Regions from separate parts of the Homo sapiens genome. Here regions 2, 3 and 4 are each linked to region 1. The links come from fine-mapping of genetic effects on gene expression. A gene starts in region 1. Each other region holds a variant in brackets. All regions are shown on one strand. Distances are from middle to middle.

Region 1 (2,703 bases):
CCAGTGTGTTACGATCTGCACTCCAGCCTGGGCGACAGAGGGAGACTGACTCCAAATGAAACCAAAAAAAAAAAAAAAAACAAACAAAAACAAAAACAAAAACACACCTAAATTGGAGTTTAACGGAAAACTTTTAACTTTCTCCAGCACTCCTGCTAAGCATCACACTTCTCTCTGCTTGCTGGTACCCTGGCTGACGTCTGAGCAGGATGGGACGCGCGGCTCAGAGCCTAAGATAAACCGAAAGTGTCTACAGGGCTTTCTACCAACAAATAAGCTCTGACGGGTTCCTTTGATGAGGTTTGGGAGGCAGGTCCCGGGAGGTGCCCGCGGACTCAGCCCCGAACTCCGGGACCTGGGCTCTGCGATCCTTGCAGAGGGCATGGGCAGGGGCAGAATGGAGAAGTGCAGGACGGGGAAGCCTGGGAGCTGGGTGGGGGCGGCCACCCATTGAGCCGGATCCGGCCAGGCGCCCACGCTGCGCCCCGCCCGCGGGGCTGCGCTTTCCCGGGCTGCGGCCGCAGGGCTGGTCAGTCCGGCGCTCCCGGGTCCCAGGCCCGGAAGGAGCTAACGGGCTATTCGCAGGCGGGCTGGGATTCCCCCGGGGGAGGCCCCACTGCCCGGCCCGCGTCATCCCCGCCCATCTCCACGGGCCGTCGCGGGATAGCCCCCTGCAGGAGCGGGCAGGGTAGTGGGCGGCGCTTGGCGGAGGGCAGCACGCTCGGGGCGCGCGGGGACTGCGGCCGAGGGGAGGAGAGGGCGGTGCGCGGGCGGGGGCGGGGCGAGCGAGGGCATATCAGGGCAGCCCGCCCAGGCCACGCCCCATCCAGGCCTCGCCCCGTCCGCACCCCGCCCCGGCCCTGCCTAGAACGGCGGGACCACGGTGACTGACAGGACTCCAGACCAGTCACCACGCGCCTCGAGGCCCCGAGAGGCTAGTCGGGGCCGAGCCAGCGGAGGGGCTCCTGAAGGGGCGGGGGCGGGCGGGGAAGCCGTTCGGCGAGGGGCGGGGTCTCTGGAAGACTGGCAGAACTCACAGCCAATGGCAGGCGGGAGCCGTCCCGTTAGCGCCGGATCCCCGCGGGTAGGGCGGGGCGGGCGGCGCCGTGGGGATCCCGGGGCAGCCGAGGGCCCCTGACTCGGCTCCTCGCGGCGACATGGATCGGATGGCCAGCTCCATGAAGCAGGTGCCCAACCCACTGCCCAAGGTGCTGAGCCGGCGCGGGGTCGGCGCTGGGCTGGAGGCGGCGGAGCGCGAGAGCTTCGAGCGGACTCAGGTGAGGACGGGGGACCCCGGGGCATCCCTGGGGCACCCTGAGGGACGCGGTGTCCGGGAGGGGCTTTGAAGGGAGTAGGAGTCTTGCAGGCCCCAGTTGAAGACGGGGCGAGGGTGTAGTGAGCGGGGGCATTGACGTGCAGATCTGGGCGATCCCAGGAAGGTCGGGGACCCCAGGGTACCCCAGCTGGCCTGGGGAGAAGGGCAGAGGCGGGCTCGGAGGAGATGGCAGGATGCGTGGCCAAGAGGAGCCTGATCGGCTGGGTACCGGGCAGGAGTCCCAAGATGAGGTGAGAGGGGAAGGAACTGAAAAGGGGCGGAATGGAAGGGTTGCCCCTAAACAAGGGAAGCGCACGGGAGCCACTTGGAGGCTCAAGTGTGGGGGCGGAGAGTGGGGGCGCCGGGCTGGGAATGTGAAGGGTGAGGGGACCTCTCTTCCCCTCCGATCACTTCTTGGTTGCATTGACATCCCTTCCCACCCCCCACCCCTTAGCATCCCCCTTTCTCGATGCCTCTTGCTTGGCTCTGGCCAGCCCCAGCTGTCAGCTCTGAGGCCGGGCGGAAGGGGTCGGAGCAGGGAAAAGGAATGTAGGAAATGCAAAGTGTGGCCACTTTGTGGGAAAATTACTTTGGGGGCTAAAGTGGAGACCATGGTGCCCCTGAGCCCTGACTTGGGGTCTTGGTTTTATCCCCCAAGATGTGCCTGACAGCTAATAGGCAGACTGCCCTATTTGTCCTGCCTGGCCAGGGCTTGGGGCCAAAATTCCTCAGTGTCATCAACAAAAAGCCACAATCCATTTTTTTCTCCGAGTTTTTAATGCCTGGTGTATTGATTGGGCTGAATTAAGCTGACATGTTGATGGTGTTCATCAATTCATTTGTATGTAAAATCCATTTCAAAGAGTACAACGCTTCTTTTAATCCCAGTGCCAATGCTGGAGGGGCAGATTTCTTCTACACTCTTGTGCTCAGAGTGGAACCTTTGAAGATCCATTTGGGTCCCCCTCTCCAGAGGCTGGTCCCCTGATGTGTTATGCGAGGAATACTTCCCCCAAACACAGTTGGAGGGAAAGGGCTTTGGGATTTTAGTTAGAAAAGACAGTGAGAATCTGACTGAAGGTTCTGTATATGGAATCTTTCAAAGAATAGAGCTTTTGGCCGGGCGCGGTACCTCACACCTGTAATCCCAGCACTTTGGGAGGCCGAGGCGGGTGGATCACCTGACGTCAGGAGTTTGAGACCAGCCTGGCCAACATGGTGAAACCCTGTCTCTACTAAAAATACAAAAAATTAGCTGGGCGTGGTTGCAGACGCTTGTAATCCCAGCTACTTGGGAGGCTGAGGCCAGCAGAATTGCTTGAATCTGGGAGGTGAAGGTTGCAGTGAGCCGAGATGGCGCCACTGCACTCCAGCCTGGGCAACAAGAG
Region 2 (2,703 bases), 110 kb after region 1:
ATATCCAACAAATCTCCAGTAAGGGAGGCAAGGTCAAATGGGCAGTTCTCTGGCCATGGCCCTGGGTGTGGACTTGATGCTACCCACAATAAACAAGGCCCTCTCAGCCCTACCCAAGTAACATCAACTGGAACAAGGCTGGAGGTGACAGAGCACCGTGTCTCATGCAATTCTCAGAAAAGTGTGATTCCTATTTTCATGTTCAAGCTGGAGAAACTGAGGCTCAGAGAAGTCAAATCTCAAAGGGCCCCTCACTTTGATCTAGGAACAGTATTTCAGAGTGGTCAAGGCCTTGGGTCCTGGGGTTCAAAATCTGTCTCTACCACTTACCTGGGCAGGTTACTGGGTTCTTTATTCTATAGAGATTTAAGGAAACTCCTATAGAAACTAAGTAGGAATGATTGATTCTGCCAAGTGGTGTAGGAAGTGGGGTGGAGAAAGTGACCATTCATTCATTTATTTGGAAAAGGTTTATAGAGTGCCCTTGATATGCCATGTGCTGTTCTAAGCACTTGCTTCATTGAAGTACACACTTTGGCTTCTCTGTCCCCGAGGAGAGATAGCCTTGAGTGCACTGGACCCTGATGCTGTAGTTTGCCGGGCTGGGGCTCCTGCACACTGAGTACATTTTAATACCACATAGCTGAGGTCATCAGCACCAGCAGTAAGGAAACAGGTAATCCACAGAAATGTTAAACTTCTGCCACTTTTCAGAAAATATGAAAAGGTATAAAGAAAATAAAGATCAAATATTTTTCCACCATCTAAAACTACTGTTAACAATTTAGTGTAGGTTCTTACAGACTTTTCTGTGTGTGTGTGTGTGTGTGTGTGTGTTTGTGTGCATGCACTAGGTTGAACCTTATGAAATTGCCTTTTATATAAGTCAAAAACAGCCAAATTTTCATTTGATTCAATCAAACACAAGCATGTACACACAGACAAATACACACATATTTAAACAAAATGGGGCCATACCATAATACGGTTTTGTAGACTTTAATTTTTGTTTTCACCATGCTGGAGATCTAGAAATAATATATCACAGTGGTCCAGGCCATCCATGGGTTCTGGGTTCATGGGTTCAAAACCAGTTTCCACTGTGTGCTTACCTGGGTGGGCTACTGAGGTCTCCCTTTGCCAGGCTTTCCCTCTTGTACAGTGGGGATAGGCATATTACCTTCCATACCGGGTTGTGGTGAGGGCAGATGAATTACCACATATAAAGTGTTTAGACCAATGCCTTGACATGTATCATTCAGTCAATGTTAGTATCACTATAATTCCAGATGACCAGGGGGCGATGTATCATTTCATTGTGATCTGTCCTCTATTAATAACATTTTCCACTATTGGGGTGAAATCCTTGTGCATTCACCTAAGTATATGTATCCATTGGCTTACTTACTCTTTAAGGACTTAGGCTTTGAGGTTTTAGCTTTCAAGAATTCTTTTTGCTAATGTGTTTCAAGCTGGGTAGTAAGTACAGGGGAAGTTTCCTTGGGCGGCTGCCCTATGGCTCTATAAATTAGGCTTCCAGGTCATGGCCC[T/C]GGTCTTAGTCCATTCTTGCTGCTATAACAAAATACCATAGACTGGGTCTATAAACAATAGAAGCTTATTTCTCACAGTTCTGGGGGCTGGGAAGTCCAACATCACAGCGCCACCAGATTCAGTGACTGGCAAGAACCTGTTCCATAGATGGCATTTTCTCGCCGCATCCTCACATGGCAAAAAAAAAGGTAGAAGAGATGACTGGTGTGCCTTCGCATGCAGAAGAGGTAGAAAGGGCAAGCAGCTCTCCAAAGCCTCTTTTTTTTAAGAGACAGGGATTCACCATGTTACCCAGGCTGGCCTCAAACTCCTGGGCTCAAACGATCCACCTGCCTCAGCCTCTCAAAGTGCTGGGATTACAGGCATAAGCCACCACGCCCGGCCTCCAAAGCCTCTTTTATAAGGGCATTTGTCCTTATAAAAGACTTAATCATTTCCGAAAAGTCCCTACCTCTTCATACCATCACAATGGAGATTAAGTTTCAACATGAATTTTGGAGGGGACACACATATTTAAACTATAGCGCCCCATCTCTGCTTTTCTACTCACTAGAAACAGTGACTGTTCACCAGTCCCCAACTCTGGGCCTTGCTCACTTCTGTGGCTCAGTCATGCTGTCATCTCTACCTGAATGCCCTGGCAGGCCCCCTTTCCACACCAGCTTCTCAGCTGGTTAGGTTGGTTCTTCCTTCAGGCAGCCATCACCAATCCTTAAGCCTCAGATAGATGCCCACACCCCAGGCCTCCATACAGTCCATACCCACCAATCTCTCTCCTCTCACAAGGTGGACACAATGCCATCACTTTCTCCCCATCTAGACCTCACTCTGAAACCAGGACTAAGTCTTAGTGATCTGTGAGTTGACTTAATGCAACACTTGACCGGGTGCTCAATACACCTACCCAGGAGTTTGAGACCAGCCTGAGCAACAGAGTGAGACCCCATCTCTATAAAAACTTAAACAATGGTGGCTTATATTTATAATCCCAGCACTTTGGGAGGCCAAGGTGGGTGGATCACCTGAGGTCAGGAGTTCGAGACCAGCCTGGCCAACATAATGAAACCCCATCTCTACTAATTGTAAAAATACAAAAATTAGCTGGCCGTGGTGGCAGGTGCCAGTAATTCCCAGCTACTCAGGAGGCAGGCT
Region 3 (2,703 bases), 140 kb before region 1:
CAAAGTAAGCCCAATTTTATCTACTTGACACCCCAGACCCTCCAGCCTGGTTCACCCTTTGACATGCGTTGTTCTATAGCTCTCTGCTAGGAAGGATACAGGCCAGCCCGATGGACAGCCCGCAGACATTACTGAGGAAAGAGGTCTGGGGAATGAGCCACGAGGCACCCAGCAGGAGCCACGGAACCAGGACTGAGGGCACAACCATGCCAAACACCAGGGCCCGCCTCATCCGAGAACGGACGGTGGTGACTCCCAGCATGGCAAAGGCCACTGGGGTGAAACCTCTGGCATCCTCCACTTCCCCCAGCTTTGACAGTGATGACACAGCCTCGAATGACAGGAAGATGATAGCGGAGAAGATGGCGAAGATCACGGTGAAGAAGCAGTGGCGGACGGTGCCCACGGTTCTCTCGAAATTGCCAGCAAAGCGCCAGATGATGATAGCGCCGCAGAGCAGGGAGATGGGATTCTCGTAGACAAAGATGTAGGTTACCAGCCTGTAAACTGCAGAGGGAGTCGGGTTAGAGGCCTGGCGGCGGGTTGCTCCCAGGAGGGAAGCCAGGTTATAAGCCGCCTAGGAAAGGCAGAGAGCCCCCCTCCGTGACAGAGAAGTGAGAGCCAGTGAGTCGCAGCAGGAGGCAATACAAGCAGTGCGTTCAACAATGAAGGACCCAGAGCCTCAAAGGAGAGGCATGAATATCTAATCCCTACACTTCCCCAGGCCTGGTGCAACTCTTAGCGGTAACTGACTTCCAGAGGGAAAAAAATAATACTTTTCGGTAGAGGGCAGTCTCTGAATTTGTAAAGTGCTTTATAATCCTTTTTCAGGTTTTCATACTGACCTACCTCACTGGGCAGTTTGAGGGTTAATTAAGTGTAACAGCTTCGGGGTGGATTGAGTGGGTGTCACTTAACACTCTGTGTGCCAGTCTCCTCTGCTGTAATCCTGACCCCTCCTTCCATAGTGGCTGTTCAGAGGAAGAAAAAAGGGACCATGAATTATTTTGCAGCTGTAAGAATTATAACACTATCATTAACAATAAAGATTATAGAAATTATAAGTCTCCTCAGAAAGTGCTTATCCGATCTCACAGGTAAACTGATGCTTTATATGTAATAAGACATCAAAGAATCCTCCTTTTCCTTTTTTTAAATTTTTATTTGTAGAGACAAAGTCTTGCTACGTTGCCCAGGCTAGCCTTGAACTCCTGGCCTCCAGTGATCCTCCTGCCTTGAATTCCCAAAGTGCTGAAACTACACATACGAACCATCATTCCTGGCCTTTTATTTTTCTAAAAGCAGTTAT[C/T]GCCAGGCATGGTGGCTCACACCTGTAATCCCAGCATTTTGGGAGGCTTAGGTGGAAGGATCACTTGAGCCCAGGAGTTCAAGACCAGCCTAGGTAACATAGTGAGACCCCCGTCTTTAAAAAAAATTTAAAAATTAGTCAGGTGTGATGATGTGTACTTGTAGTCCCAGCTACTTGGGAGGCTGAGGCAGGAGGCTCGCTTGATTCCAGGAGTTGAACGCTGCAGTGAGCTATGATTGCATCTCTGCACTCCAGCCTGGGTAAGACGAAGACCCTATCTCTAAAAAAATTTTAGAAGTGGTTATCTCTTAAGTATTTTTATGTCCCTGCATGCCCAAATACGACTAAACTCAAGGAGAGAGACCAAAGAACTGATGGTAATATTGGACTTGGGAGTCTAAAGACTTGGAGTGGAATCTTGGCTCTATTACATCCAGGCTGGCTGAGTTTAATCATGTCACAGGTCCTCTAGGCGTCAGTTTCCTCACTGTAAAGTAACAAGAGTTAGATTGAGGACTTCAAAGGTCCCTTACGTCTCTAACGCTCACATATCCACGAAACCCACACCCAGGGAAGCAGTGAACCCCAGAAAGTGGGAGGTTAAGGTTAGGTTGGCATTTTGCTTCTGTCTGTGAGGTGGTGCTATGTATACCTAGGGTGGGGGGAACAGTTTTAGATTGGAGTGGGGAAGCAGGCTATGGAACCATATACCTCAGTCTGGCCATCACCAGAGGCTTCATTATCTGAAGAGTACTTCATTATTTGTTGAGTATTTCCAAAACTGAAATTCCAAGTATAAACATGAAAAGATTCTAGAAGCAACTGTACATGATTTGGAGATTATCTACCCGAAGGCTCTAGTTCCAAAACATCACAGAATAAAAAAAAAAATATAGATTCCTATCTCAATTGCATGACGCAACAGCTCTGCGATTCTCTGCATGAAACCTCAATCTTATCTAGATAACGGGCCAATAACAGGTCCTACGTCATGGGATCCTTGTGAGGGTTAAACGAAATTAATACATATCAGTGTGTGTGCTTTGCAAAACAGCAGGAGATATGCAAATTTCCTGTGTTCCTCTCGAGAAAATGAGGAAGACACGGAGACTAGGAATGTCTTTCAGGAATGGATGTTTATACTTAATTGGTCTGCAAAATTTCTCTCCCCTAGAGAAAAACAAACACTTCTCTCCAAAGGCAGAAGACACCCTGGTACCCCCATGAGCTGGGAATGGCAGTCAAGATTAAGATACAGATGAAAAAGCAGAAGAAATTCCAAATCTCAAGAGGGCAGGACGTTTATAGGGCTTATAGGGGTTTGTGGATAAAGTCCAATTGTCGTGATGTAGGTGAGAGAAAAACGTTTTTCAGTGGGGCTTAGGCCTAAAGCA
Region 4 (2,611 bases), 130 kb after region 1:
AATACTGATATTTCTCTAAATTTTCTTCAGATCTTAAGTCCATTTCAATCCAGGTCACTCTTTTTTGGAAATGGTCCAGCTTGTTAGTTTCCTTCATAATGTATAAAGCCTGAAACTGAATAGTGTTTCACGCATGGCCTTATCTGTGTAGAGAACTGGAACCATACGTTCCCTCCTTTTAATGCATCCAGAGAGATCAGACTTGCATGTTCATCAACCGTATCAAAATCTTGCTATTATTAAGTTAGCAGCCAAATAAAACACCTTAATTCTTTTTTTTGTTTTCTTTTGAGACGGAGTTTCTCTCTGTCACCCAGGCTGGAGTGCAGTGGCGTGATCTCGGCTCACAGCGTTCTCCGCCTCCCGGGTTTAAGCAATTTTCTGCCTCAGCCTTCCGAGCAGCTGGGATTACAGGTGCCCACCACCACGCCCGGCTAATTTTTTGTGTGTTTTTAGTAGAGACGAGGTTTCACCATCTTGGCCAGGCCGAACTTGAACTCCTGACCTCGTGATCCACCTACCTCAGCCTCCCAAAGTGCTAGGATTACAGGCGTGAGCCATGTGCCCAGCCAAAACACCTTCATTCTTTTCACAAGTGCTGCTTTGAGTCACGGCTCCCTTGTGCCAGTGAGTTTAGGCCTAAGTATAGAAAATTTCCTTTGTACCTACTGGATTTCATCTTGTGAATTTTAATGCATTTTTCCAGTCTGTGGATTCTGATCGTGTCTCTGTGGTGTAGAGGGCCTTGTCTAGTGCCGAGGTTGTGATCCTGAGCCTGAGCTTGGTCACACTGCAAAGACTGAATCCCCGCCCTACACTTGCTGATGTTACGGGCCTGGGCAGTTTACTTAGCAGTTCTTTTTTTATTTTTATTTATTTATTTTAGAGATAGGGTGTCACTCTGGTCCCCAGGCTGGAGTGCAGTGGCGTGATCATGGCTCACAGCAGCTTCAAACTCCTGGGCTCAAGTGATCCTCCTGTGATCCTCCTATCTCAGCCTCCCAAGTACCTGGGACTACAGGCACGGCCACCGCACTTGACAAATTTTTTTTTTTTTTTTTTTTTTTAGGCTGGGCATGGTGGCTCATGTCTGTAATCCCAGCACTTTGAGAGGCCAAGATGGGCGGATCACCTGAGGTCAGGAATTCAAGACCAGCCTGACCAACATGGTGAAATCCCATCTCTACTAAAAATACAAAAATTAGCCGGGCTTGGTGGTGTGCACCTGCAATCCCAGCTACTGGGAAGCTGAGACAGGAGAATCGCTTGAACCCAGAAGGCAGAGGTTGCAGTGAGCTGAGATCACACCACTGCACTCCAGCCTGGGCAACAGAGCAAGACTCTGTCTCAAAAAAAAAAAAAACAAAACAAAAAACAACTCTTTTTTTTTTGTAGAGATGGTGCCTTACTGTGTTGCTCAGGCTGTTCT[G/C]AAACTCCTGGCCTCAAGTAATCCTCCCACCTAAGCCTCCCAAAGTACTGGGATTACAGGTGTGCACCACCACACCTGGCTATTTAAAAAAAAATTTTTTTTTAGAGATGGGGTCTCGCTCTATTGCCCAGGCTGGTCTCAAACTCCTGTTCTCAAGCAATCCTCCAGCCTCAACCTCCCAAAGTGCTGGGATTACAGACATGAGCCACCCCACCCAGGTTTACTTAGCCTTTCTAAGCCTAAGAGATCTCAGGTACCTTGGTTTCTTCATCTGCAGAATGGAGCTGATTAATACTATTAAGTGTCTACTGGTAGGTTGTAGAGTTGTAAGACTTTATATAAGATAATTCATACAAAGGGGCCTGGTCTAAGCACTCATTAGTGCCATCAGCTTGATAATTATCACCACCGTTACCGCTAGTTCACTTCCTCATTCTTTTAAAAATGGCTATTTCTTACCCAAGAGCCGCCTGGCCTCATTGTTCATTGTTCCTTCGGGTCCTTTTCTTACAGTGTCTCCCCAGCTTGTGGCCCTTGCTGCTATCCTCCCCTCATCTAGGTCCAGAGCCTCTGCATCATCTTTTTTTTTTTTGAGACGGAGTCTCACTCTGTCGCCCAGGCAGGAGTACAATGGCGGGATCTCGGCTCACTGCAACCTGCACCTCCCGTGTTCAAGCAATTCTGCCTCAGCCTCCCAAGTAGCTGGGATTATAGGCATGAGCCACCACACTCAGCTAATTTTTGTATTTTAGTAGAGATGGGGTTTCACCATGTTGGCTAGGCTGGTCTTGAACTCCTGGTCTCAGGTGATCTGCCCCCCTCGGCCTCCTAAAGTCTCTGCATCATCTTGGAGGCACCATGGATGCATCCTTCTGCTGTCTCCCTGTAACCCGGAGCTCCTATCTGCCAGTCCTACTGAAGCTCGTTTTACAGCTCACATTATATTGGGTCATTTCCATTCTCACATCTTTCATTTTGATTCCATTTTTCCTGTACTTTTATGCTATTAAATAGCTTCTGGCTGGGCATGGTGTCTCACACCTATAAGCCCAGCACTTTAGGAGGTTGAAGCAATAGGATTGCTTGAGGCCAGGAGTTCAAGACCAGCCTGGGCAACATAATGAGACCCCGTCTCTATTTAAAAAAACCAACTAGCCAGGCATAGTGGTATGTGCCTGTGGT

The links.
Region 2: its variant is fine-mapped to the expression of HIP1 in monocytes after Pam3CSK4 (Quach 2016, PIP 0.95).
Region 3: its variant is fine-mapped to the expression of HIP1 in whole blood (INTERVAL, PIP 0.95).
Region 4: its variant is fine-mapped to the expression of HIP1 in tibial nerve (GTEx, PIP above 0.99).

Annotation. Positions count from the first base shown.
Region 1 is chr7:75,737,375-75,740,077 of GRCh38, reverse strand. It overlaps HIP1 (huntingtin interacting protein 1), which reads left to right and starts at 1,137. Exons shown (of 31, transcript NM_005338.7): 1 at 1,137-1,277. The coding sequence starts at 1,158. RefSeq lists a silencer at 360-1,349.
Region 2 is chr7:75,625,021-75,627,723 of GRCh38, reverse strand. The region is part of intron 1 of HIP1 (huntingtin interacting protein 1); the gene reads left to right. Among named protein-coding and RNA genes, the nearest start is that of HIP1, 110 kb to the left of the region's middle. RefSeq lists an enhancer at 2,630-2,703. The variant T/C (reference allele first, on the strand shown) is at 1,551.
Region 3 is chr7:75,879,633-75,882,335 of GRCh38, reverse strand. It overlaps RHBDD2 (rhomboid domain containing 2), which reads right to left. Exons shown (of 4, transcript NM_001040456.3): 2 at 100-507. Among named protein-coding and RNA genes, the nearest start is that of RHBDD2, 2.0 kb to the right of the region's middle. The variant C/T (reference allele first, on the strand shown) is at 1,310.
Region 4 is chr7:75,605,986-75,608,596 of GRCh38, reverse strand. The region is part of intron 1 of HIP1 (huntingtin interacting protein 1); the gene reads left to right. Among named protein-coding and RNA genes, the nearest start is that of SPDYE5, 110 kb to the right of the region's middle. RefSeq lists a silencer at 39-239. The variant G/C (reference allele first, on the strand shown) is at 1,430.